Linked DNA regions of Homo sapiens. The protein of the gene in region 2 interacts with the protein of the main gene of each other region in a pairwise test. Each region holds a gene or a part of one and is shown on either strand. Other genes may lie near its edges.

Evidence for each region.
Region 1: the proteins of CWF19L2 (region 2) and LZTS1 interact in binary tests that used the Homo sapiens proteins (3 or more experiments, as listed by UniProt).
Region 3: the proteins of CWF19L2 (region 2) and ATXN10 interact in binary tests that used the Homo sapiens proteins (3 or more experiments, as listed by UniProt).
Region 4: the proteins of CWF19L2 (region 2) and CEP70 interact in binary tests that used the Homo sapiens proteins (3 or more experiments, as listed by UniProt).
Region 5: the proteins of CWF19L2 (region 2) and VPS52 interact in binary tests that used the Homo sapiens proteins (3 or more experiments, as listed by UniProt).
Region 6: the proteins of CWF19L2 (region 2) and PSTPIP1 interact in binary tests that used the Homo sapiens proteins (3 or more experiments, as listed by UniProt).
Region 7: the proteins of CWF19L2 (region 2) and DISC1 interact in binary tests that used the Homo sapiens proteins (3 or more experiments, as listed by UniProt).

Annotation. Positions count from the first base shown.
Region 1 is NC_000008.11:20,293,964-20,297,463, forward strand, and holds part of LZTS1 (leucine zipper putative tumor suppressor 1), read right to left. Parts: intron 1-3,500. UniProt on the Homo sapiens protein: Involved in the regulation of cell growth. May stabilize the active CDC2-cyclin B1 complex and thereby contribute to the regulation of the cell cycle and the prevention of uncontrolled cell proliferation. May act as a tumor suppressor.
Region 2 is NC_000011.10:107,426,826-107,430,325, forward strand, and holds part of CWF19L2 (CWF19-like protein 2), read right to left. Parts: intron 2,627-3,500; coding exon 1,974-2,626; intron 1-1,973.
Region 3 is NC_000022.11:45,692,334-45,695,833, reverse strand, and holds part of ATXN10 (ataxin-10), read right to left. Parts: intron 2,839-3,500; coding exon 2,756-2,838; intron 1-2,755. UniProt on the Homo sapiens protein: May play a role in the regulation of cytokinesis. May play a role in signaling by stimulating protein glycosylation. Induces neuritogenesis by activating the Ras-MAP kinase pathway and is necessary for the survival of cerebellar neurons.
Region 4 is NC_000003.12:138,573,761-138,577,260, forward strand, and holds part of CEP70 (centrosomal protein of 70 kDa), read right to left. Parts: intron 1-3,500.
Region 5 is NC_000006.12:33,265,377-33,268,876, reverse strand, and holds part of VPS52 (vacuolar protein sorting-associated protein 52 homolog), read left to right. Parts: intron 1-227; coding exon 228-378; intron 379-668; coding exon 669-769; intron 770-879; coding exon 880-1,012; intron 1,013-1,137; coding exon 1,138-1,195; intron 1,196-1,555; coding exon 1,556-1,689; intron 1,690-1,803; coding exon of another isoform or gene 1,804-1,869; exon of another isoform or gene 1,870-2,145; intron 2,146-2,164; coding exon 2,165-2,320; intron 2,321-3,500. UniProt on the Homo sapiens protein: Acts as a component of the GARP complex that is involved in retrograde transport from early and late endosomes to the trans-Golgi network (TGN).
Region 6 is NC_000015.10:77,035,551-77,037,975, reverse strand, and holds the end of PSTPIP1 (proline-serine-threonine phosphatase-interacting protein 1), read right to left. Parts: coding exon 2,413-2,425; intron 2,175-2,412; coding exon 2,041-2,174; intron 932-2,040; coding exon 800-931; 3' UTR 501-799; downstream 1-500. UniProt on the Homo sapiens protein: Involved in regulation of the actin cytoskeleton. May regulate WAS actin-bundling activity. Bridges the interaction between ABL1 and PTPN18 leading to ABL1 dephosphorylation.
Region 7 is NC_000001.11:231,633,290-231,636,789, reverse strand, and holds part of DISC1 (disrupted in schizophrenia 1 protein), read right to left. Parts: intron 1-3,500. UniProt on the Homo sapiens protein: Involved in the regulation of multiple aspects of embryonic and adult neurogenesis. Required for neural progenitor proliferation in the ventrical/subventrical zone during embryonic brain development and in the adult dentate gyrus of the hippocampus.

The DNA.
Region 1 (3,500 bases), on a different chromosome or scaffold from region 2:
AAAAAGAAAATGGAAAGAACTGGGTTCCTGAGGTGTGAAATAAAAGTTCTTGGCAGTGAGTATTTGTGTGTGTGTAGGGGAGACAGGGAGAGGATATGGATAGAGTGGTTTTTAAGCATCCTTTCAACCCTGAGGTGTTGTGTTTGCATGTAGAGTATCTGAAGTTTTTTCAGCACAGGCTCTTTTGTGTCCTGACAAATCTTAGGACCCTAGAGTTGGAGGTCCTGTCTGCGGCTCTAGAATAGAAGTAAGTCCAACATCAAGAAAAAGTTTCTAAGTCAACAGATGTCCGAGGTACTGGTGGAAGCCCAGAGAAGCCAAATGCCTGGTGCTTCTAGTTTGATAGATGAAGAAATCCTGTCTTGGGAATAGCCACGCATCCTGCCCACACCTGCCCCACCAGCCACCAGCCGGCTGCACAGCCTTTGAGCAGGGCCAGCTGCGGGCCTGGCAAGGGGAGGAGCCGAAGGCAGCTGGGGAGTCCTTCCCAGGCCTCCTTCAGGGGCCGGCTCGCTTTACAGTGCAGGTGGAGGCTGGGGGCTCCGCCTGGCTCCTCTCATTTTCCCCACCTGCCTGCAGTGTGGTTTGTCTGCTGGGGCCACGGAGGCGTTGGGGCTGGGGGAATTTGATAGGCAAGGAGGGGGAGGCTGTCTCCTCAAGATGTGTGCGCTGTCCAGTCCATGCTTCCCTCCCTCCTCCCCTTGCACTGTGGAAATGCCCTTTGGGGGTGGCGGGGAGCAGGGAAGAGCTCAAGCTGGAGTGTCTGAAGGTTGCAATAAATAAGGGAAGCTACCCTGAGTGTGTAGATTGTCCTTCTGGACCTCTGCTGGGGATGACCATGGGAGACAGAGGGGAGGGCAGACCCCACACAGGTACCTACAGACACCAGGCATGGGGCTGCCTCTCTGGAAGGTCAAGGGCAGCCTCAGGGCTCATCCCCATATCCCTCAAGAGTCTCCCCATCTCCCTAGCTAGGGAGGCTTCTGTTCTTGGCATTTTCCTATTATCTCCCCCAAGCAGAGTGTGGGAGGCAAGGAGCCTGGGTTGGGGGCCCCAAGAGGTCCCAAGCCAGCTTGGGATGGCATGAGTTCCCTTTCTAACCTCTCCCTGGGTGCCCAAACAAATGTTATCAGTGACTCAGGGAGCCTCCTGTCAAGGTCAGTCTGCCCTGCCTGACGCTGTCACTGCTGCCCGATGTGAGAACCGATTCTGCTTCCTACCTCCTGCCAGCCCCGGCACCATGCCTGGGCATTGGGCAATGGATGAGCTATCAGGAGAGCCCATGTGCCAGGTGGAGATCACCCCCAGCCTTCTGCACAAGGACCACAGGTCTCTTAAGTTTCTGCTTTCCTGGCTGGTCTGTTCTGCAGTGTAACCCTTTCCCTCCCTGGAGTTTCCCACTGAGATTGCAGACCAAGCCCTGTAGATTCCCTTGTGATTCCATCTCCTCTTGCTTGCCTGGCTTTCCAATTTCTGTGGCCCTTGAGTGGCACAGAGAGATCTGAAGTGGCTGGGTAGAAAGAAGCACTGTGGGCCTTAGCGCCATCCATCTCTGCCATTTGGGACCGAGCCCTAGACCATTCCTAAGGCCTGGTGCTATATATCAGATGCGGGACACACATTCTCTTTCAAGGGGCTTATAACCTATGCTGGGAGGGAGGATAGAGATAAAAAGCTAAATATGAATACATGGGAACAAGTGCTCAAATGGGAGTGACAAGTACGTTATACACTGTAGAATTCAAGGAACAGGGAGTTCACAGAGGGCAGAACCCTTCTCTTCCCATGGCTAATGTCCTTTCCTGCCTCCAGACCAGGGGTGGGAAGACACTCAGTAGCAGGTGGACCCCTCTGTCTCCTCCCACTGAGCCAGGACCCACTCACCTATAATGCCCCCCCAATCCAGTGTCACTGGGGTCACCAGGGAAAGGTGCTGGCAAACCCCAGGCCTTGTTTCCCTGCCTCCTTCACGCTGTCTTCCCTCCTTCCCTCTCTCCCCTCTCCTTGCATGTCTATACTCAATTCTCCCTCTTTACAGCAGGAATATAATGTTCGGCTGCCTTACACCCACTCTCTGAATGCTGCCAGCGAATAATGACTAAGGTGGTGGGTGGAAGTACAGCAAGTTGAGACCAATTTAGCAGTCCATGGTGCCAAGAGGAGGGTGATTTAGCAGCAAATGGCTCTGCAGCAGCAAGAAGAGTGAAAATGTCCCCCAAGCCAACAGGCCAGGGAGCCAAGTGCACAGCCCTGCCCTGATGCCTTGGGCGGGGATGGCCTCAGCCACCTGAGAGGTTATTCTGTGAGGTCAGATTCATGCACAGGAATGGGAGGGTTTGAGAACAATGCCCACTCCCAACCCCATCTCACCTCCACTTTCAACCTCCTTGAGGGGCCCCAGTTCTTGTACCCCTCTTAGGCTGAAAGTCTCACCTAGACTGGCCCATCCTCTTCCTCCAGAGGATCTGTAACTCTAATGGGTTCGTGGCCACCTAAAGACTGCCCCAGGCATGGCATCGGGGAGGGGGCTGTCTGAGCTCACCTCAGACCATGCCACAGATTGGCCAGCCCAGGTAGGCAGAGGTGTGGATCTCCCGGGTCCTGACATCTTGGGAGTCTCTGAAGATTTGTGTAATGTGATGTACTTGGGCTTGTGAGTTTGGGTATCACAAGAAAGCACGTCTCAGAGGGAGAGACAATGAGAGTGGATGAATGAAATGGATACGTGTGTGTGCGTGTGTATGTGTGTATGTGTGCGTGTGTGCATGTGTGTGCATGTGCTCTGGCACTGGCCTGAAGGCAGCCCTATCTTCTCCCACAATGATTAACTGACATGAAGCACATCTATTGGCGATCTCCATGGGGCAGCTCTTTGCTGTCTTTGTTCCAGGTGCTGGACGCAACCCACATCACATCTGTTCAGACACCGATTTGGCCTGTCACTTAGTAAGAAAAATCACCTCTCTGCTGGATTGATTAGATCAATTAGCTTTAGCTGTTAGCTAACACACACATTCCCTCTCTGCTTGTCTTCTGTCTCCGTCTTCCGCCTCCCTTCGCTCCCCTCCTTCCCACGATGCTCCATCCAATTCTCTTCTCCCCTGGGGGCAGCCTCCATGTGTGATTGCCCCTGAAGTCTGGTTTCCACAAATTGCTTGAGCTACCAGTGAAGAGACTGCTATCCCATTTTAGTTCAGAACGTACTTGCTCATGGACAAGGTGGAAACACTGAAATATATTATGCAATTAAGGTTGGTATTCCAATGAAATGTCATTAATTCAAATTCTGTGGAGGCAACATTTGCTCTAATTTCAACATGGAGTGGACTAAACCTTTTGAATTGACAAGCTATAAAGAAAGAACTGACATATGATAAATTTCATTCTCTAAAGCAAATGCCAAGTAGACATTCCATTATCCTAGCTACATCCTACTTTATTGTGTTTGTTTGTTTGTTTGTTTGTTTTTGAGACAGAGTCTCGCTTTTTAGCCTAGGTTG
Region 2 (3,500 bases):
CAAATACACTAAAAAATTTGGAAAGACACTACCAACACTGTTAACCTGGCAAATAGGATTAGGGTTGGAAGTGACATGAAAGGGAGATTTACTTTTTCATTTTATACTCACCTATGCTTCATATTCTTGTTTTATACTCTTCTGTCTATATTGTTTAAATTTTATACATATACATTTATTAAGATTACAAATGGCATGTTCTAAAAAATAATACTGGTGTAAATAACAAGAAAGGTAAAGATATATGAACAATACATACAAAGAAGTAAAAACTAATTCAACTAATTTTTCCAATCATGACCATTCACTTATAAGACAAAGATTATTTGTAACAACTAGGCATTCTTCAAGGTCCTGTCTTGGTCTCCTACTTTACAACCACTCTACATTCTCAGGAATCTTTTTTTTTGGATGATTCCTAGATTTTTCTTTCCCTCTCCAGCCAGTCACAGAATTCATAGAAAGCCTCAAACCCTCTGTACCATCAAATTAACACAGCGAACAAAGAATACTGTCTTCAAAGGAAAAATTACATGTATACATACATATATATACACACATATATAGCTTTTAGTGAGTGCTGTCTTCAAACCGAAAAATTATATACATACACAGCTTTTAGTGAGTGCCTGTATTATAGTGTATCTATCAGAAGCTTACAACTTAAATAAGACATACAAATATGCAGCAATCAGACAACCGGTTGGAATACTAATCGTGTGGTATTACTTTGCAGACATTTTGCTTAGCTACAGTCACAGAAGAAGGCCTACAGATCATCCAAATGCTAACCCAATCCTAATGATATCAGGAAATAAGAGCCTCATTCCCCTAGTGACTGGGAACTGGAAATAGTCTACCACCCAGGGCACCTGGAGTGAAGACTGGACAATTACATATGCATACAGCCTTAGACAATAATCCCTGCCATGTTTGTTTAGTCAATACAATTGGATTTCTCCTTCCACTTCCTGGGAGGAAAGCCCTGATGTGAACCAGAGTCCATTTGACTGGGGCTTAATCACTCAGTTCAGATTTTGCCAGCTCCCTCCCACCGAAAATTACACACTGAGTTTTATAATCCACTGCTTCAGATGGAGTCATTAACAAAAGTGATTTATCAGACTCACAACCCCAAACCACAGTGCTTTTATCTACTACAACCATGTGTTTCTATTATTTCCTAAAACCTCTTCCTTTAGTGTCCCACTCATTTGGTGCTATTTTTAAACATATTTTAATGATCATTCACGTGTAAGTTGTTACCCTTTGGACACTTTTTTTTCTGGCTATCTCCAACAGGGCCAGCAAATTTCTAAAGCAAATTTTCTTAGGTTTAGTCCCATTCAACCTGGGTTTCCTCATCTTCTAACCCAGCCCTACATAAATGCAACATATATTTTATATTTAAAACTCTAATATTATCTTTAAAATCTGTCAATTGCCCAAAGTGGATTATTTCTTTCTTTGTGCAAAATAACAACCATAATTCATGCTCCCCTCTGCAAGATCTCTGGCATGTATTTGTCACTTTATATTTGGGCCGTGGCAGCGTGTTTTCCTTTTGTCTCCTAGACTTCCTATAGACATGCAGTATTTATGATTATGATTATACTCAACAATAAGATAATTTCCTTAGAAAGTAATGGCATTGGTAACAAAATCTACCAAAATATCTCCTGCAGCACATACATTTAAAACATTAACTCATTCAGTTTTTTAAATTGCAAAGCAGCAACATATTTTGAACAAATATAGCTACTGCTTTCAGCTCTTAAAAAAAAAAAAACCTATGAAATAAAATGCAATCCATACCACAATACTGCCTGTTAAATCTGCATATCTTACCCCTTCTATCAATTTTAAGAAATGTGAGATCATAGTCACAGCTAATAACTGATGTTCTAAAAATACAGTTCTGTTCTTTGAACTCTCTGGATCTTAACTTATTAGGTTAAAAAATGATAAAATACCCAGCAAATGTAGACTTTGTATCCCGTAGATGTTCTTTTTTTGGAGGGTCATCTCTCAAGACTTCATCTTGTGATTTTTCTCTTGGGTCTTCTGGAACATGTTGGTGTTCATCAGTACTGGTTTCCGATGGCTTTTGATTTGAATGTTTCTTGTCTCCTCTCCCATCAGAGCGACTCCATGATGTTAATCTTTCTTCACTGTTCTTGGTGGGTTTTCTAAAACCACTACACAAAGAGCCCTGAGCTACCAATGCTGAAGATGAACTAAGTGGTTCAAATTTTCTGCCCTTGCTGTGAAATGACAGTTCTTCATCATCAGAGGGTCTCAAGAATTTAGCTCTCAAATTGCCAAAAGAAAACTCTTGATTTTGCCTTGGGTTAGATTCTCTTCTACACGTTTCTAAAGACCCAGGTCTCTTATCTTTTTCATCACCAATAAATTTTTCATTATTGCTATTTTTTGCAGTATCTGTTGTAGCATATCTATCCCTTGAACTGTTACCATATTTTACTAAGTCTGATTCTCTACTTTCTTGACAATTTTGTGCTTTATCTGAATATGTGGGTTTCCTCCACCGTTCCCGTCTATAATCTTCTTTCGTGGATGCAGCTTTTTCAGCATCTTCTAATTTTGACTGAAATATTTCCATTGACTACAAAGGAGAAAAATTAAACAAGATATCTAAAATTAGGAACGGCTCAGTGACTTGCACCCCACATGTCACTGTATGACTCACTGCCAAGTGGCACACTGAAAAGCCCACTAACGGGGTGAAAGAAGACCCATACAATCATCCTATACGGAAACGAATACTTTCTAAAAATGTGTAAACAATTAAAAATTATTAAATAACAAAAAGATTCCAAAAGGATAGCCAGTTACACCAAACACTCTGCACTAACACAAAGTATAACACAGAAAACAGTAGAGACAAACTTTGCAAAAAATACTTAATTCCTACTGGTTGTGAGATTCAAGAGGTTAAATTGCTAAAACAGATTCTCACCAAAAAAAAAAAAAAAAACAGAATAGTTCAAGAACAAGAAAGACTTGGAAATAAAAAATTGTGTGTCCCAAAAAGCTGCCAAGATACACCAAAAGGAAGAAAAGACAGTGCTGAAAACTAAATTAACCTGGGAATTCTCTATATTTTAGGAAAAGGTAGTAAATAAATGTAAGTTATAAGAAAAAAAGATACATGAACAATTGATTCTAGAAAATCTAATATGCATTTATTAGTACTTCCAGAAAGATGGAGCAAAGATGATGGGAATAGAGCATTAATTTTAAAAATATATAAGAAAATTTCCCCAGCCGATTTCTCAGAAGGACTCATCCAATAGCCTTGGGTGGGGGAGAAAGAAGAAAAACACAGAAAAAAACCCTAATACCTGAATCTCAAAACTCAAGGAAAAAAAAAAAAACCTTTACAAGGACTAGATCAGGGAAGGAGTGAATAAGTGTGAGCCTGTATATGGATAGGGGTAGATAAATAACAAATTATCCACAAAGGAAAGACAGACTTA
Region 3 (3,500 bases), on a different chromosome or scaffold from region 2:
GAGAAGCACACATATTAACATCAATAGAAATATGCCTCACGTGGCCAGGTGCGGTGGTTCATGCCTGTAATCCCAGCACTTTGAGAGGCCGAGGTGGGTAGATTATGAGGTCAGGAGTTCAAGACCTGCCTGGCCAAGGTGAAACCCCATCTCTAATAAAAAAATACAAAAAATCAGCCGAGTGCGGCGGCAGGCGCCTGTAATCCCAGCTACTCGGGAGGCTGAGGCAGGAGAATCGCTTGAACCCGGCGGGAAGGCGGTGGTTGCAGCGAGCCAATATCGCACCACTGCACTCCAGCCTGGGCGACAGAGTAAGACTCCATCTCAAAAAAAAAAAAAGAAATATGCCTCATGTTATATGCAAAGTACAGGCATTAAAACTGTATATAAAACAATTTGTAAGTCAAATAATATTTTAAATGCAACTGGAGACTTCTCATTTAAAGGTTATATTCATTGAATTATAAGGTAAAGACGTTATTACAATGACAATTTTTTTTTTTTTTTTTGAGGTGGAGTCTCGCTCTGTCGCCCAGGCTGGAGTTCAGTGGCGGCAATCTCGGCTCACTGCAAGCTCTGCCTCCTGGGTGCATGCCATTCTCCTGCCTCAGCCTCCCCAGTAGCTGGGACTACAGGTGCCCACCACCATGCCCGGCTAATTTTTTGTATTTTTACTAGAGACGGGGTTTCACCGTGTTAGCCAGGTAGATCTCCTGACCTCGTGATCCGCCCACTTCAGCCTCCCAAAGTGCTGGGATTACAGGCGTGAGCCACTGCGCCCAGCCAACAACAACAAAATTTAACCTATAATTTAGTACATCTAACTTATCCACCTGGAAATTTACATTAAAATTTTCTGGGGTTTTGTTTTTTTTTTTTTTTTTTTTTTTTTTGAGACAGAGTCTTGCTCTGTCACCCAGGCTGGAGTGCAGCGGCGTGATCTCAGCTCACTGCAACTTCCACCTCCCAGGCTCAAGCAATCTTCCTACCTCAGCCTCCAAGTAGCTGCGACTACAGGCGTGTGCCACCATGCCCGGTTCTTTTTTTTTTCGAGACAGAATTTCACTCTTGTCACCCAGGCTGGAGTGCAATGGCACGATCTCGGCTCACTACAACCTCCATCTCCTAGGTTCAATCAACTCTCCTGCCTCAGCCTCCTGAGTAGCTGGGATCACAAGCATGCGCCATCACACCCAGCTAATTTTTGTATTTTTAGTAGAGAGGGGGTTTCACCATGTTGGCCAGGCTGGTCTTGAACTCCTGACCTCAAATGATCCGCCCGCCTCAGCCTCCCAAAGTGCTGGGATTACAGGCTTGAGCCACTGCACCCAGCCTTTGTATTTTTTTGGAAACGGGGTTTCACCATGTTACCCAGGCTGGTCTCAAACACCTGAGCTCAAGCAATCTGTCCACCTTGGCCTCTCCAAGTGCTAGAATTACAGGCATGAGCCACGGCACCCAGCCTACATTAAGATTTTTTTATCAAATAATTTAGGTTTACCCATAAAGTATTTCAATTCCTGGCACAAAGAGATCATAAATTAAAAATCTACGTTTTTTTTTTAAACATTATGTTAAGATAATAACCACTGTCCAAAGGAAAGATGTTGATGCTAGAAGAACAAAGACCAAAACCATTCTACTAATGAGTCTAAAGAAGTGTGGTGTTTCTCTTAATCCCAAGTCAACAACCGTTAACAATCAGAGCTAAGTTCCATTTTCATCACACTAGATACTTGACTTAGACACTTAACATGTGGTTCCCCTCAACGGAATGTGAGTTCTCTAAGGACAGACACTTTTTGTCTGTTTTGGTCACTGTTTGAATCACACCCAAAACCTGGACCAGGGCCTGTCACATTCATAAATATTAAAAGTCTTACCACAGACTGAATGGCTTAAACAACAGACATTTATTTTTACACAGTTCTGGTGGCTGGAGGTCCAAGATCAAGGTGTCGAGAGGGCTGATTTCTTCTGAGGTCTCGCTCCTTGGCCTGTAGATGGTCATCTTCTCCCTGTGTCTTCACATGGTCTCTACTCTGAGCATGGCCATGTCCTAATTTCCTCTTCCTATAAGGATACCAGTCATATACCCTCATTTTACCTTAATTACCTCTTTAAAGATCCTATCTCCAAATTCAGTCACATTCTGGGTATTGGGGGTTAGGACCATGCTATGATCTGAATATCTGTGCCCCTCCGAAATTCCTATGCTGAAATCTAATCCCCAACTTGCTAGTATAAGATGGGGCCTTTGGGAAGTGACTAGGTCATGATGGTGCAGCCCTCGTGAATGGGATTAGTGCCCTTATAAAAGGGGCCCAGAGAGCTTGTTTATGCCTTCTGCCTTCCACCTTCCACCACAGGAGAACAAAGCAAGAGGCACCATCTATGAAGACGAGAGCAGCCCCCGCAAAACACCCAATCTGCTGGTACCTTAATCTTGGACTTTCCAGCCTCCAGAACTGTAAGCAATACATTTCTGTTGTTTATAAACTACCCAGCCTAAGGCATTTTGTTATAGCAACTGGAACAGACAGACTTCAACATACAAATGTGAAAGGAACAAAATTCAGCCATTCAGGAAGGGAAGTTGATACAACTTTATAATTCTTTAATAATTCACTATTAAAGTTTCCCTATCTCATGAAATACAGAACATGTGTTTCAATGAATGATGTTAATACTCAAAGTACTGGTTTTGAACCCTTTATAAAGATATAAATAATCCATGAATTATATTGCATGCTACCTGTCAACAGAGATTCCTGTTCCACTCGCAGTTCACGAAACAGAAGAATCAAATCAACAGCAACACCAATCGTATCCAAGTTCCTGGGTTTTTTAAAAAAGACAAAATTAGACATGTTCATTCATTCATATATTGTCTATGGCTGTTTTTGCACTACAATGGGAGAGCTGAGAAATCTGACAGAGATTACAAAGCCTAAATTATTTATTATCTGGCTCTTTACAGGAAAAATATAGCAACCCTAGCAGTAGAGGTTATATTTACATGCAGAGCTAACTGCTTCCAACAGCTTTCTTTGAGTACTTCCTGAAGTTTCCCATGACTCAGATTCTTTGCTTTATTGTATTTTACCCCATTCCATGCATTCTTGGCAAAAACAGTCCCAGTCCACACAAAGTGCAAAAGATGTAAAAAGATCTAGGCTTTAATAGCATCACACCTTTTGATGAACTCTTTAACGACTTAAAGTAAAACATCAGAAAAATATGTACTAGTTGCAATCTGAATCTTGACTGGCTCAGAAATACTGGCCTTAGTTAAGCTTGGCCACAAAGTCTTTACTAGAATCTTTGTAGTATTTCTAACTAGAAAATTCTTTTCTGAAAATTGCTGCCCTAAATGGTTGAAATTTTCCTTTAAAAATCAACAGTGAATAATAATACAATCCTAGAAGGGAAGAGGCAGAAAAATTAACACCCTTAAATGTTCATTTTCATTTCCGCCCAACCATAAGTTGCATGCAATA
Region 4 (3,500 bases), on a different chromosome or scaffold from region 2:
GGTAAATGGAGTAACAGTGTTCTAAGTTTGTTTACAATGGAGGTGGACACTGGTAAAGGTATCTGTTAACACTGGGCTTTTGTATAAGTTAAGGATGCTTGAGAATTTCTAGGACATCCACTGAAGAACTGAACAGAAGTATATAATTTTCTAACTAGTAAAGGGGAAAAACAAGACTATAATGATGCATTTTTAAAAATAAACCCAAGGGCATCCAAGATGGCCAAATATGAAAGGCTTCAGTCTGCAGCTCCCAGTGTGACTGATGCAGAAGACAGGTGATTTCTGCGTTTCCAACTGAGGTACCTGGTTCATCTCGTTGGGACTGGTTGGACAGTGGGTGCAGCCCACAAAGGGCGAGCCGAAGCAGGGTGGGGCATTGCCTCACCCAGGAAGTGCAAGAGTAGGGAGATTACCCATTCCTAGCCAAAGGAAGCCGTGACAGACTGTACCAGGAAAATCCAGACACTGCTACCCAAACACTGCGCTTTTCCAATGGTCTCAGCAAGTGGCACACCAGGAGATTATATCCCATGCCTGGCTCAGTGGGTCCCATGCCCATGGAGCCTTGCTCACTGCTAGCGCAGCAGTCCAAGATTGAACTGCAAGGTGGCAGCCTGGCTGAGGGAGGGGCATCTGCCATTGCTGAGGCTTGAGTAGGTAAACAAAGCGGCAGGAAAGCTTGAACTGGGTAGAGCCCACCGCAGCTCAAAGAGGCCTGCCTGCCTCTGTAGACTCCACCTCTGGGGGCAGGGCATAGCTGAACAAAAGGCAGCAGAAACTTCTGCAGACTTAAATGTCCCTGTCTGACAGCTCTGAAGACAGCAGTGGTTCTCCCAGCATGGTGTTTGAGCTCTGAGAACGGACAGACTGCCTACTCAAGTGGGTCCCTGACCTCCGTGTAGCCTAACTGGGAGACACCTCCCAGTAGGGCCCGACTGACACCTCATACAGCCAGGTGCCCCTCTGAGATGAAGATTTCAGAGGAAAGATCAGGCAGCAATATTTGCTGTTCTGCAGCCTCTGCTGGCGATACCCAGGCAAACAGGGTCTGGAGTGGACCTCCAGCAAACTCCCACAGACCTGCAGCTGAGGGACCTAACTGTTAGAAGGAAAACTAACAAACAGAAAGGAAAAGCATCAACATTAACAAAAAGGACATCCACACCAAAACCCTATCTGTAGGTCACCATCATCAAAGACCAAAGGAAGATAAAACTACAAAGATGGGGAGAAACCAGAGCAGAAAAGCTGAAAATTCCAAAAATCAAAGCGCCTCTTCTCCTCCAAAGGATCGCAGCTCCTCACTAGCAACAGAACAAAGCTGGATGGAGAATGACTTTGACGAGTTGACAGAAGTAGGCTTCAGAAGGTCGGTAATAACAAACTTCTCCAAGCTAAAGGAGGATGTTCAAACCCATCACAAGGAAGCTAAAAACCTTGAAAAAAGATTAGATGAATAGCTTACTAGAATAAACAGTGTAAAGAAGACCTTAAATGACCGGATGGAGCTGAAAACCATGGCACGAGAACTATGTGACACATGCACAAGCTTCAGTAGCTGATTTGATCAAGTGGCAGAAAGGGTATCAGTGATTGAAGATCAAATTAATGAAATGAAGCGAGAAGAGAAGTTTAGAGAAAAAAGTAAAAAGGAATGAACAAAGCCTCCAAGAAATATGGGACTATGTGAAAAGACCAAATCTATGTCTGTTTGGTGTACCCAAAAGTGATGGGGGGAATGGAACCAAGCTGGAAAACACTCCTCAGGATATTATCCAGGAGAACTTCCCCAACCTAGCAAGACAGGCCAACATTCAAATTCAGGAAATACAGAGAACACCACAAAGATACTCCTCGAGAAGAGCAACCCTAGGACACATAAGTGTCAGATTCACCAAGGTTGAAATGAAGGAAAAAATGTTAAGGGCAGCCAGAGAGAAAGCTCGGGTTACCCACAAAGGGAAGCCCATCAGACTAACAGCAGATCTCTTGGCCGAAACCCTACAAGCCAGAAGAGAGTGGGGGCCAATATTCAACATTCTTAAAGAAAAGAATTTTCAGTCCAGAATTTCATATCCAGCCAAACTAAGCTTCATAAATGAAGGAGAAATAAAATCCTTTACAGACAAGCAAATGCAAAGAGATTGTGTCACCACCAGGCCTGCCTTACAAGAGCTCCTGAAGGAAGCACTAAACATGGAAAGGAACAACCAGTACCAGCCACTGCAAAAACATGCCAAATTGTAAAGACCATCAATGCTAGGAAGAAATTGCATCAACTAATGGGCAAAATAACCAACTAACATCATAATGACAGGATCAGATTCACACATAACAATATTAACCTTAAATGTAAATGGGCTAAATGCCCCAATTAAAAGACACAGACTGGCAAATCGGATAAAGAGTCAAGACCCATCAGTGTGCTGTATTCAGGAGACCCATCTCATGTGCAGAGACACACATAGGCTCAAAATAAAGGGATGGAGGAAGATCTACCAAGCAAATGGAAAGCAAAAAAAAGCAGGGGTTGCAATCCTAGTCTCTGATAAAACAGACTTTAAACCAGCAAAGATCAAAAGAGATAAAGAAGACCATTACATAATGGTAAAGGGATCAATTCAACAAGAAGAGCTAACTATCCTAAATATACACGCACCCAATACAGGAGCACCCAGATTCATAAAGCAAGTCCTTAGAGACCTACAAAGAGACTTAGACTCCCACACAATAATAATAGGAGACTTTAACACCCTACTGTCAATATGAGACAGATCAACAAGACAGAAGGTTAACAAGGATATCCAGGACTTGAACTCAGCTCTGCACCAAGCAGACCTAATAGACATCTACAGAACTCTCCACCCCAAATCAATAGAATATACATTCTTCTCAGCACCACATCACACTTATTCAAAAATTGACCACTTAGTTGGAAGTAAAGCACTCCTCAGCAAATGTAAAACAACAGAAATCACAACAAACTGTCTCTCAGACCACAGTGCAGTCAAATTAGAACTCAGGATTAAGAAACTCACTCAAAACCGCACAACTACATGGAAACTGAACAACCTGCTCCTGAATGACTACTGTGTAAATAACAAAATGAAGGCAGAAATAAAGATGTTCTTTGAAACCAATGAGAACAAAGACACAACATACCAGAATCTTGGAACCAACCCAAATGTCCATCAATGATAGACTGGATTAAGAAAATGTGGCACATATACACCATGGAATACTATGCAGCCATTAAAAAGAATGAGTTCATGTCCTTTGTAGGGACATGGATAAAGCTGGAAACCATCATTCTGAGCAAACTATCGCAAGGATAGAAAACCAAACACTGCATGTTCTCACTCATAGGTGGGAACTGAACAATGAGAACACTTGGACACAGGAAGGGGAACATCACACACCAGGGCCTGTCGTGGGGTGGGGGGATGGGGGAGGGATAGCATTAGGAGAAGTACCTAATGTAAACGACGAGTTAATGG
Region 5 (3,500 bases), on a different chromosome or scaffold from region 2:
CTTTAGGTATGCATTAGGCATCAAAGATTAAGATTAAGAATGATGTAAGATCAGGTGTATAGTGGGGAGGTCCAGGAATAGAAAACTTTGTACATGTGTCCTGACTATATGGTACAATGCAAGGTGGTAGAGATGACAGGGGCTGGAGGTAAGGAGTGTGGTCTGGGTCTGGTTTAGGGATGTCTGGGTCTCCCTTGTAACTCATCCCACCCCTCCCTGCTAACCAGGGCAATTCTGGAGGCTCCAGTGACAGAGCCCAGGTTCTTGGAGCAGCTACAGGAGCTGGATGCCAAGGCAGCCGCAGTCAGAGAGCAGGAAGCTAGAGGCACAGCAGCCTGCGCAGATGTCAGAGGCGTGCTCGATCGGCTCCGGGTCAAGGTGGGAAGTAGGGATGGATACCCTGGAGGCTACTGGAAGCAGCCTTCCCAAGATCTTCACTATGGATTTCCTTGGCAGAGCTCACTGTAGCCTGTCTCCAGGGACTTCACCCTGCCTTTTCTGGGCAGCCCCATTCTTGTCTCTCTGGGTTTCCCTGAAAATCTTGAGAAATACCAAAGAGATATTCACCACCCTTCTGCCTATGTTTACCATTTGTTGCTTCCCCCAGTTCCTCTCATACAGCAAAAGGGTTGCAGCTTCATGCCCTGTGTTTGGTTCCCCACATCTAGGCAGTGACGAAGATCCGAGAGTTTATCCTCCAGAAGATTTATTCCTTCAGGAAACCCATGACCAACTATCAGATCCCCCAGACGGCCCTGCTGAAGTACAGGTCACAACCCCAAGGAAGTGCATGGGATGGCCTTTGAGTTTTTGAGCGGCCTAGTGTGGGCATCTGGTTTCTTGGGAGACAGGTAGACTGACATGTTCCTGACCCCCTAGGTTCTTCTATCAGTTTCTGCTGGGCAATGAACGAGCAACAGCAAAGGAGATCAGGGATGAATATGTGGAGACGCTGAGCAAGATTTACCTGTCTTACTACCGCTCTTACCTGGGGCGGCTCATGAAGGTGCAGGTAAGGTCAGGAGGGAGAGGTATTCCTGGGCACATGGACTGGGAGGAGGGGACATCCCTGGGCAAGGAATATTTTATTGTGTTGTGGGAAGAGACGGTTATCAGTTCTCTTTTCTCTTTCCTTAGTATGAGGAAGTCGCTGAGAAAGATGATCTAATGGGTGTGGAAGATACAGCAAAGAAAGATATCCTAGTACTGGGGAACCCTCATGCCAGGCCTTGAGAGTGGGAGGACTTTCGACTCCAGCCACCAATGCACTGCTCCTTACCTTTTCCTATGGGACTGAAACCTTTTAGAATGTGATGAAAGCTATAGCCTCCCTCCCCAGAAAGATGCACACATTATTTTGACACATAGTTTTGCATATGATTGCAAGGGAGGGAGAGACACCCTGAAGCCCATTCACAGATGTCAGCACGTGGGGCCCTAGTACTGGGAAAGAGGGCTGGCTAGGCCACGTCTGCCTGTCTGGGGTCCCCACAGATAGTGAGTCTTTGGGCCCAGTTATGGTCTCATTGTTTTCCCTGACTCTGACCCATCTTACGATTCTTCTCAAAGCCATCGCTCCGCAGCAGGAACACCATTTTCACCCTAGGAACCCGCGGCTCTGTCATCTCCCCCACTGAACTTGAGGCCCCCATCCTGGTGCCTCACACAGCGCAGCGCGGAGAGCAGAGGGTATGAGGAGGAACAAGCTTCAGTCACGAAAGAGGCTCTGAGCACGGTGGGGAGGGAAGGCCAGACCTCAGGGCAGAGCTTCCCAACCTGCAGGCCCTGTCTTAATCCCCTTAGACTTGGGAGTGGCCTTCTCCAATCACTCCAGCCTGCTGTGATGTGAAAAGAGCTGGGAACCATTGACTTAAGGGCATGCAGAGGGGAGAGACTGGATGAGGGGAATGACAGTCAGAGGCAGGTGTTGAGGTGGATGCAGGAGTAGCAACAGCAGGTGGGTGTAGGCCCTTTTTGTACCCCTATGTTCCCCCACCTTTTCAGTGCCCATTCAGCTTGCTCTTAGACAGCCCGGACCTAGATAGATGCGAAGGGTCTGCCTAGCTCTTATTACTCAGGTTTACTGATTTTCCAGCCATATCCATGGGAAGTCAGTGTTGGGGTCCATCCCTTCTGTTTTTCTTCTTTACTCCTCCTCTCCCAGTATCCATTTGAGGCCCTCTTCCGCAGCCAGCACTACGCCCTCCTAGACAATTCCTGCCGCGAATACCTTTTCATCTGTGAATTTTTTGTTGTGTCTGGCCCAGCTGCACACGACCTGTTCCATGCTGTCATGGGCCGTACACTCAGCATGACCCTGGTAAGACTCCTGTTTCCTGTACCATTCAACACCTTTGTCCCCAGTCTTCATCAGCAGCATAGTGGGGTCATGACTCTGGTAGAACTGAAATCAGGATCGCCTCATTCTAAAATGTCTAAGCCTTGGCTGGGCGTGGTAGTGCACACCCATAATCCCAGCACTTTGGGAGTCCAAGGCAGTAGGATTGCCTGAGCTCAGGAGTTTGAGACCAGCCTGGGCAACAACCTCATCTCTACAAAAAATGAAAAATTAGCCGGGTGTGTGTTGATGTGTGCCTGTGGTCACAGCTACTAAAGATGCTGAGGTGGAAGGATTGCTTGAGCCCAGGAGGTCAAGGCTGCAGTGAGCCATGCACTCCAGAGTGAGACCTGTCTCAAAAAAAAAAAAAAAAAAAAATAGCCAGGTGCAGTGGCTTACGCCTGTAATCCCAGCACTTTGGGAGGCTGAGGCGGGAGGATCACAAGGTCAGGAGTTTGAGACCAGCCTGACCAACATGATGAAACCCTGTCTCTACTAACAGTACAAAAATTAGCCAGGTGTGCGCGGCCTGTAATCCCAGCTACTCGGGAGGCTGAGGCAGGAGGATTGCTTGAACCTGGGAGGAGGAGATTGCAGTGAGCCAAGATTGCGCCATTGCACTCCAGCCTGGGTGACAGAGCGAGACTCCATCTCAAAAAAAAAACTTGTTACTTAGACTTGTCACAGTGTTACTCCCCCATGAAATCCTCAGTGCGTAGGGTCCCTGAGACTACCCCTACTGCTGACCCACAATCAGGCAATAGCACGTGAAAACTGAGGGTCCCCCAAATCTTGGTGCTCAAACCCCTGACCCAAGCTCAGCCCTGAACTCTGCTGTGATAGGCTTGTGATCATAGATCCTGGTGTGGCCAGGTGCAGTGGCTTATGCCTGCAATCCCAGTACTTTGGGAGACCAAGGCAGGAAGGTTGCTTGAGGCCAGGAGTTCGAGACCAGCCTGGGCAATGCGGCAAGACCTTGTCTCTACAAAAAATTTAAAAATAAACTTAACCAGGCATGGTGGTACACACCCATGGTCCCAGTTGCTTGGCAGGCTGAGGTGGGAACATCACTTGAGCCCAGATGTTTGAGGCTGCAGTGAACTATGATTGTACCATTACAATCCAGCCTAGGTGACAAAACAACCTGTCTCTAAAGCCGAAA
Region 6 (2,425 bases), on a different chromosome or scaffold from region 2:
GTGAAAGTTATGTTCCTGGGACTAAAAAGAGAAGGGGCTGAAGGCCTTCAAGAACAGCTCCCTCTGTGCCCGGGGCCAACGTGCCTGGGCTGTGGACCCCTGCTCGGCCGGGGTTGCCATGTTGAGGGGAGTGTCATGGGCAGCAGTGGCTTCCCCAGGCCCCACTTGCACCCACAAGCCACAAGCCTGTCTTCCTGGGCTCCCACCATGGCCTCTCCAACAGATCCATCACCAGCTTCCTGTTTCCAAACTGAGTCCTCCGAATATTCCTGGGTGTACCCCCAACCTCACCTTTGCCCACGCACTTGCCCTGGCCTGGCCACTGCTGCCCAGCCATGGACCTGCTCAACCCTCCGCCCCCAAGAAGCCTGCTCTCCCCATTGCAGCCCTGCTGAGCCCCTTCTTGCCCCTGCCACATCCTCCTGCACCCCTGTGTCCTCTGTCCAGGTGTGAATGTGTCTCCTTGGCAGTCTGGGAGCTCCTAGCAACTGGGGCCAGGCCTCTTCTCCAACTATAGCTGAAGCCTCGGCTGAGTTGGGGAGCTCCACATCCAGGCTCCTTCCCTTGTTCCTTTGCCTCCTCTGAACTGAGCACTCGGACACTGGAGCAGGAGAAAAAGAGAACGGGACCCCAGCACACCAAGGAGAACAGAACGCACTCCTTTATTCCCTGGGAGACGACAGGCTCCCTCTCGGGGCTGGGGGACGCTTGGTTCTGGGCCCTAGCAAGGTGGGGACAGTGCTGGGGGCACTGCTGGCTCCACTGGCAGGGCAGGTCCGAAGGGGCTCCTGGCCCTTCCTCAAAGCTTCTCCAGGTAGGAACCAGGGACGAAGCCACGCTGCCCGTTCCTCTCCACAGTCCACCAGCCATCCTCCCCTTCCAGGATCACCTCCAGGATGTCTCCCGCGGACAGGTCCAGCTCATCTGGGTTCTGGCCAAGAGATTGAAAGCGCATGACGTTGGAAGGGCCTGCAGGGAAGGGCCTGCAGGGAGGGGCCTGGCGTTCCCCCACCCAGCAGTAAATGCGGCATGTCTCCCAGGGTGGGCAGGGGCAGCCCCTTGGGGACACAGGATGGGGGTAACCCAACGGACCGGGCCTCCCATCCCCCTCAGTTTGTCATCATAGTTCTCCCCCAACCTGGGTTTCTTCCCAGCCTCACCTCCCCTCTCCCATTCTGGAGACGCAGTGACTGGAGCATGTCAGGGGTCACGGGTGCTCATCATACCCCAAGCCCAGGGCACACTCATGCCTAAGCTTACCACAAGCCTCCCCTTTGCGGTCCCCAGCCCCAGCTAGCCACTGCCATCCAAGTACCCCATCACTCTCCTGGCCTGGCTTCCCTGCCTCCCCGAGCCCTGGCCTCATCAGTGGAGTCCACACCCAGCCTGCCTGGCTATGTGGGGGTGCTTGGCCTCAGTCCAGGTGGATGTGAGGTCTGGCTATGCATTCTTCCCCTCAAGCAGGGAGCAGAAAGGACTCTCATAGCTGCCCTGTGGCTGCCTTGGTTCATCCTCACCCTATGGACATCAGAAAATCAATCCTGGCACGATAGCAAGACTCATTCTGGCCACAGTTTTCCACACCCATGGCCACGAAGGACAGGGCCCTGACCCAAAGGCACAGAGCCTGGCCCTCAAGCTATGACCTGCAGGCAGCTCCAGGCTCTGCCAGCTCCCCGCACGTGTGCACCACTCAGCGCCCAGCCTGTGTGGACGGCATAGGTACATGTGCTCCACGTGTGTGCTGTGTACAGGCCCGGGCAGACACAGGCCTGCTGCACACCAGCTTCCAGTCAGTACATGCACACTGAGGCCCCGCAAGCCCTGGGTGCTGTTCTCAGAGCTCACATCCAAGCACACTCCCAGGTACCCTTGCTAGTGTGGACACACTCGGGCACACGTGCCCTCCTGAGGAGGAGAGGATGCTCGAAGATGAGTGAAACCATGAGGAGAGATGAGGACGCAAGGCACTGGATGGGAGAGGGAGCTCTCAGGTGCAGGGGAGGTGGCACAGGTGGGTTTGGGGTATAGAGGCCTCACCTGCGCTGTATAATCGTAGAGCGCCCGGTACTCCTGGGCTGGTGAGGCCGGGTTTCCCTGTATCTCCTGCACTGCGATGGCTGTGTAGACACCCTCATTCCGCTCGGGGGTGGGGGTCAGGGTCTCTGTGGACGCTAAGAGCAGGGTGAGACATAGACCCCTCCCCTTCTGGGGACACTGGCCCCTGGAAGTCCTACTAGAATGGGGTTTCTCCATGCTGGGCCCTGCCTCTTCCTTCTGCTGTCCACACTTGCTGTTGGGGGACACACACTTCCTCTTGAGGGCCTCAGTGGCCCCATCTGTGCCATGTGGGAGACCTCTCCTCCCCCCCAGGATCAGTGTGTTTGGGGGTCCCCTCCTGACCCCCTTTACCAGCAGAAGCTGC
Region 7 (3,500 bases), on a different chromosome or scaffold from region 2:
GAATAAAATTTTAAAGGTAGTGTCAATATAAATTCATACCAAGATTAGCTGAAGGGAAAGTAACTCCCATAAGACATCTCATTTTGTTTCCACTGAGCCTGTTCTGACTCCTTGAAATGGCAGAAACAGGGGTAATAACAATATCTTTTATCATGTATTACCTTATGCTTTTCAAAAAAAGTTTCAAAAACACAATAAATATTTGAATAAATGCACTTAGATAATCCCAAATCAGAGTCAAGAAAATATATAAAAGTTAAATTCAAATGATAGAATTTGTCCATTTTTCCATTCAAATTACAATTTAAGTCAAGTAAAGAAAGACATACAAAAGCTGCATGATTAGGAGGGAGTGCAGCGCTCATCCTCCTGTCCCCAAGGCCGATTAGCCAGCTGGGTGAGAGATGAGATCATGAGTTCTGGGCCAATGAGTCACTGCCCTTCACCATTGCCCCCAGACACAAACAGCTGCAGGTCTCCCAAAGCGTGTGTCCACCCTACGGAGCTGCCACCCTACAGAGGAGAAAATGTGGGTGAAAGTAAGCAAAAGCAACATCACAACCATGAAATTAACTCAGTGTTCTACAAATGGAGAATTATATATCTCTTTCTGAATGAAGAGCAGCATATTTCATACACAGTGTGGAAATAAACATTGAGTAAATTGTTTTCAAAATTGTCATACCTAGGAGTAAACCCAGCAATAGGTAAATTATAAATTAAAGGAGCCCTTCTTTCTTCCTCCATCTATCCATCCATCTAGACTGTAAGGTATTTATTAGGCATCTACTGGTGCTAAATACTTCTTAATGATTTTAGTACACCCCGATGTGCCCAGTCCTTCTGATGAAACAATATCCGGAAACTTCATGAGAATGAATTCTCTTTTTTCCACGGGACTATAGGCTTCTCAATGGTGTAGACAACACTATCTATTTGAATTTACATATCAATTTACACATATATATACAAACATAAGTATATATATTTTTTATATTCAAGAGCTATCATAGTATCTGACTATATAGTGTATGCATCTCAATAAATATTTAAACTGAACTGAACTTCTGAAACTCCTGATTGGTTTCAAAAGATATAAAAATAATAGACTTGGTTAATCTATGCATTGGATTAATACATCCTAAATATAATTAAGAGTTTGGTCTAATCCAGTGAGAACAGAGTAAACCATAAGTGTACTACATAGATGAGGGAGTAAGGAGATAAACCAGAACTGAAACCTTGAGTTGAAGAAGTCTACATTGGAGTCAGAAAAACAGGTTATATCCATAACAAACTATAACAGAAGAAGGAGAGAGCAGACGATTCCAGAGAACCAGGGAAGGCTGAGAAGCATTATTGATTTGCTAGGTGGTAAATGAGGGATGACATTTTGATGCGTTCAGATTGGGAGCAAGAAAGACGGATTCTGTAATATTCTCGGTGGGCAGAATAATGTGCATAATAAAAAGGCCAGAGTGTCCGTTTTAAGTGTTTAAGGGCCAGTGTATGGAAAGCTTGAAAAGAGATGCTAAGAATTTGCTTGGGGGGAGATAATGAGTCTCTGAAAGCCCCTTCCACAGAGGAACAATAACCCAATCAGATCTGTGCTTTGTGAGGACTGTCCTGGCAGCAGTGTGCAGGCCTGATTGGAAGGAGTTACTCAACAGAGACATAATGACATAATCCAGTATCAGAACTGGGAAGACACAGGAAGGGCTGGAACACCTTCTGAAGAGGCATCCTAGGTGTGGCTGTTAAGCTCTAAGGCCTAAGAATACCAGGCTCCCTTAGTTCTCTCTAGACTGGATGGCCCTTGAGAACAATCTACATTTTTGGTTTTGGGGGAGTTTTTTCATTTTTTTTTTGAGACAGGGTCTTGCTATGTTGTCCAGGCTGGAGTGCAGTGGCTATTTGTAGGCACAAGCATAGCGCACTGCCACCTTGAACTCCTGGCCTCAAGCAATCCTCCCGCCCCAGCCTTCCAAGGAGCTGGGACTATAGGCATGCACCACCATGCCTGGCACTCTACATTTTTAAGTACCCTGCAATGTACAACACTGTACTGTGTATACAGTAGGTGCTAGTGTTTGTGAATGAATAAATAAACACAATGGAAGAAATTAATGGATAAGTTAATGTCTCTAGGAGATAATTCTATAAACTAAGGAACACAAAATGATTAATAGAGTCGAGGCAATTTAAGGCCCCCAAATCTACTGTTTAAATTGAATACAGATGCTCTATCCCCAAGGACAGTGTCTCACATTTCATTTTGCTTGGCCTGCAGCTATAACACAAGACGCTAGGGAAACATTAAGACTTGTACTGAAATACGCAAACTTTTTTTCTTCAGAAGATTTGTGATCCCAAAACAGCTCTTGCAACTCTAAGTTTCCAGTGTAGCAGAAATATTAGAACCCCGTTTTATCTCTGTATTTACTTTTTTTTTCACTTGACCATTGTAAAATAATCTTCCTTTTCCTATCAGTGTTGGAGTAAGATGAGGCATGCTTTCACTACAAATGCAAAACACGCACATTCTCCTGTGTTAAAAATAAAGTCCAATAATCAATCCACTCACAAACCAAGAGATGACAGGTACAGGCCAGGCGCGGTGGCTCACTCCTGTAATCCCAGCACTTTGAGAAGCCGAGGCAGGCGGATCACTTGAGTTTAGGAGCTCAAGACCAGCCTGGCCGACATGGTGAAACTCTGTCTCTACTAAAAATACAAAAATTAGCTGCACGTGGTGGGGCATGCCTGTAATCCCAGGTACTTGGGAGGCTGAGGCAGAAGAATTGCTTGAACCTGGGAGGCGGAGGTTGCAGTGAGCCAAGACTGCGCCACTGCACTCCAGCCTGGGCTACAGAGCAAGACTCCGTTTCAAAAAAAAAAAAAAAAAGATGACAGGTATGAAAAAGAAAAGTTAGGTAGGCGTACATGTCACAAAATGCAATTTCAACTCAGATTCCACATTCAGGACACAACTTACTCATTAAACTTTAGATATTTCACCTTTCAACCTGTGAAAGCGATTAGTCTCCATGCAAGGCCACCTGTCAAATGCACGTTTCTACTCCTGGTAGATTTGTTCATCTGGGCGAACATAATTGTGTTAATGATCAATATCAATCCTAGACATGTACAGCTCTGGGGAGTTAAAGTAGCTACGACATTCGGGCAGATGACTGCAAAGAAGCTATCTAGGCTTCCTGAAATGGAACCACCTGGGCAAGGGAAGGAAGCAAAATGTGGAAGCCCAATGAGCAGGGAATAGGAAATTTACACAGTAGCTCAAATCCTGCACAATCCCAATCCTGCAGGACAACGATCACAGCATCTTAGCACTGGAAGGGTTCCCATTCATCATCCAACGCAGCCCCCTCCCCAGTGCAGAACCCTCATGACAGTCACCCTAGAGTCATCCACACTGCCCTACATACTTCCAATGACAAAATGCTCTCTGCCTTTCGGGGTAGCCTATTCCATCAATGGAT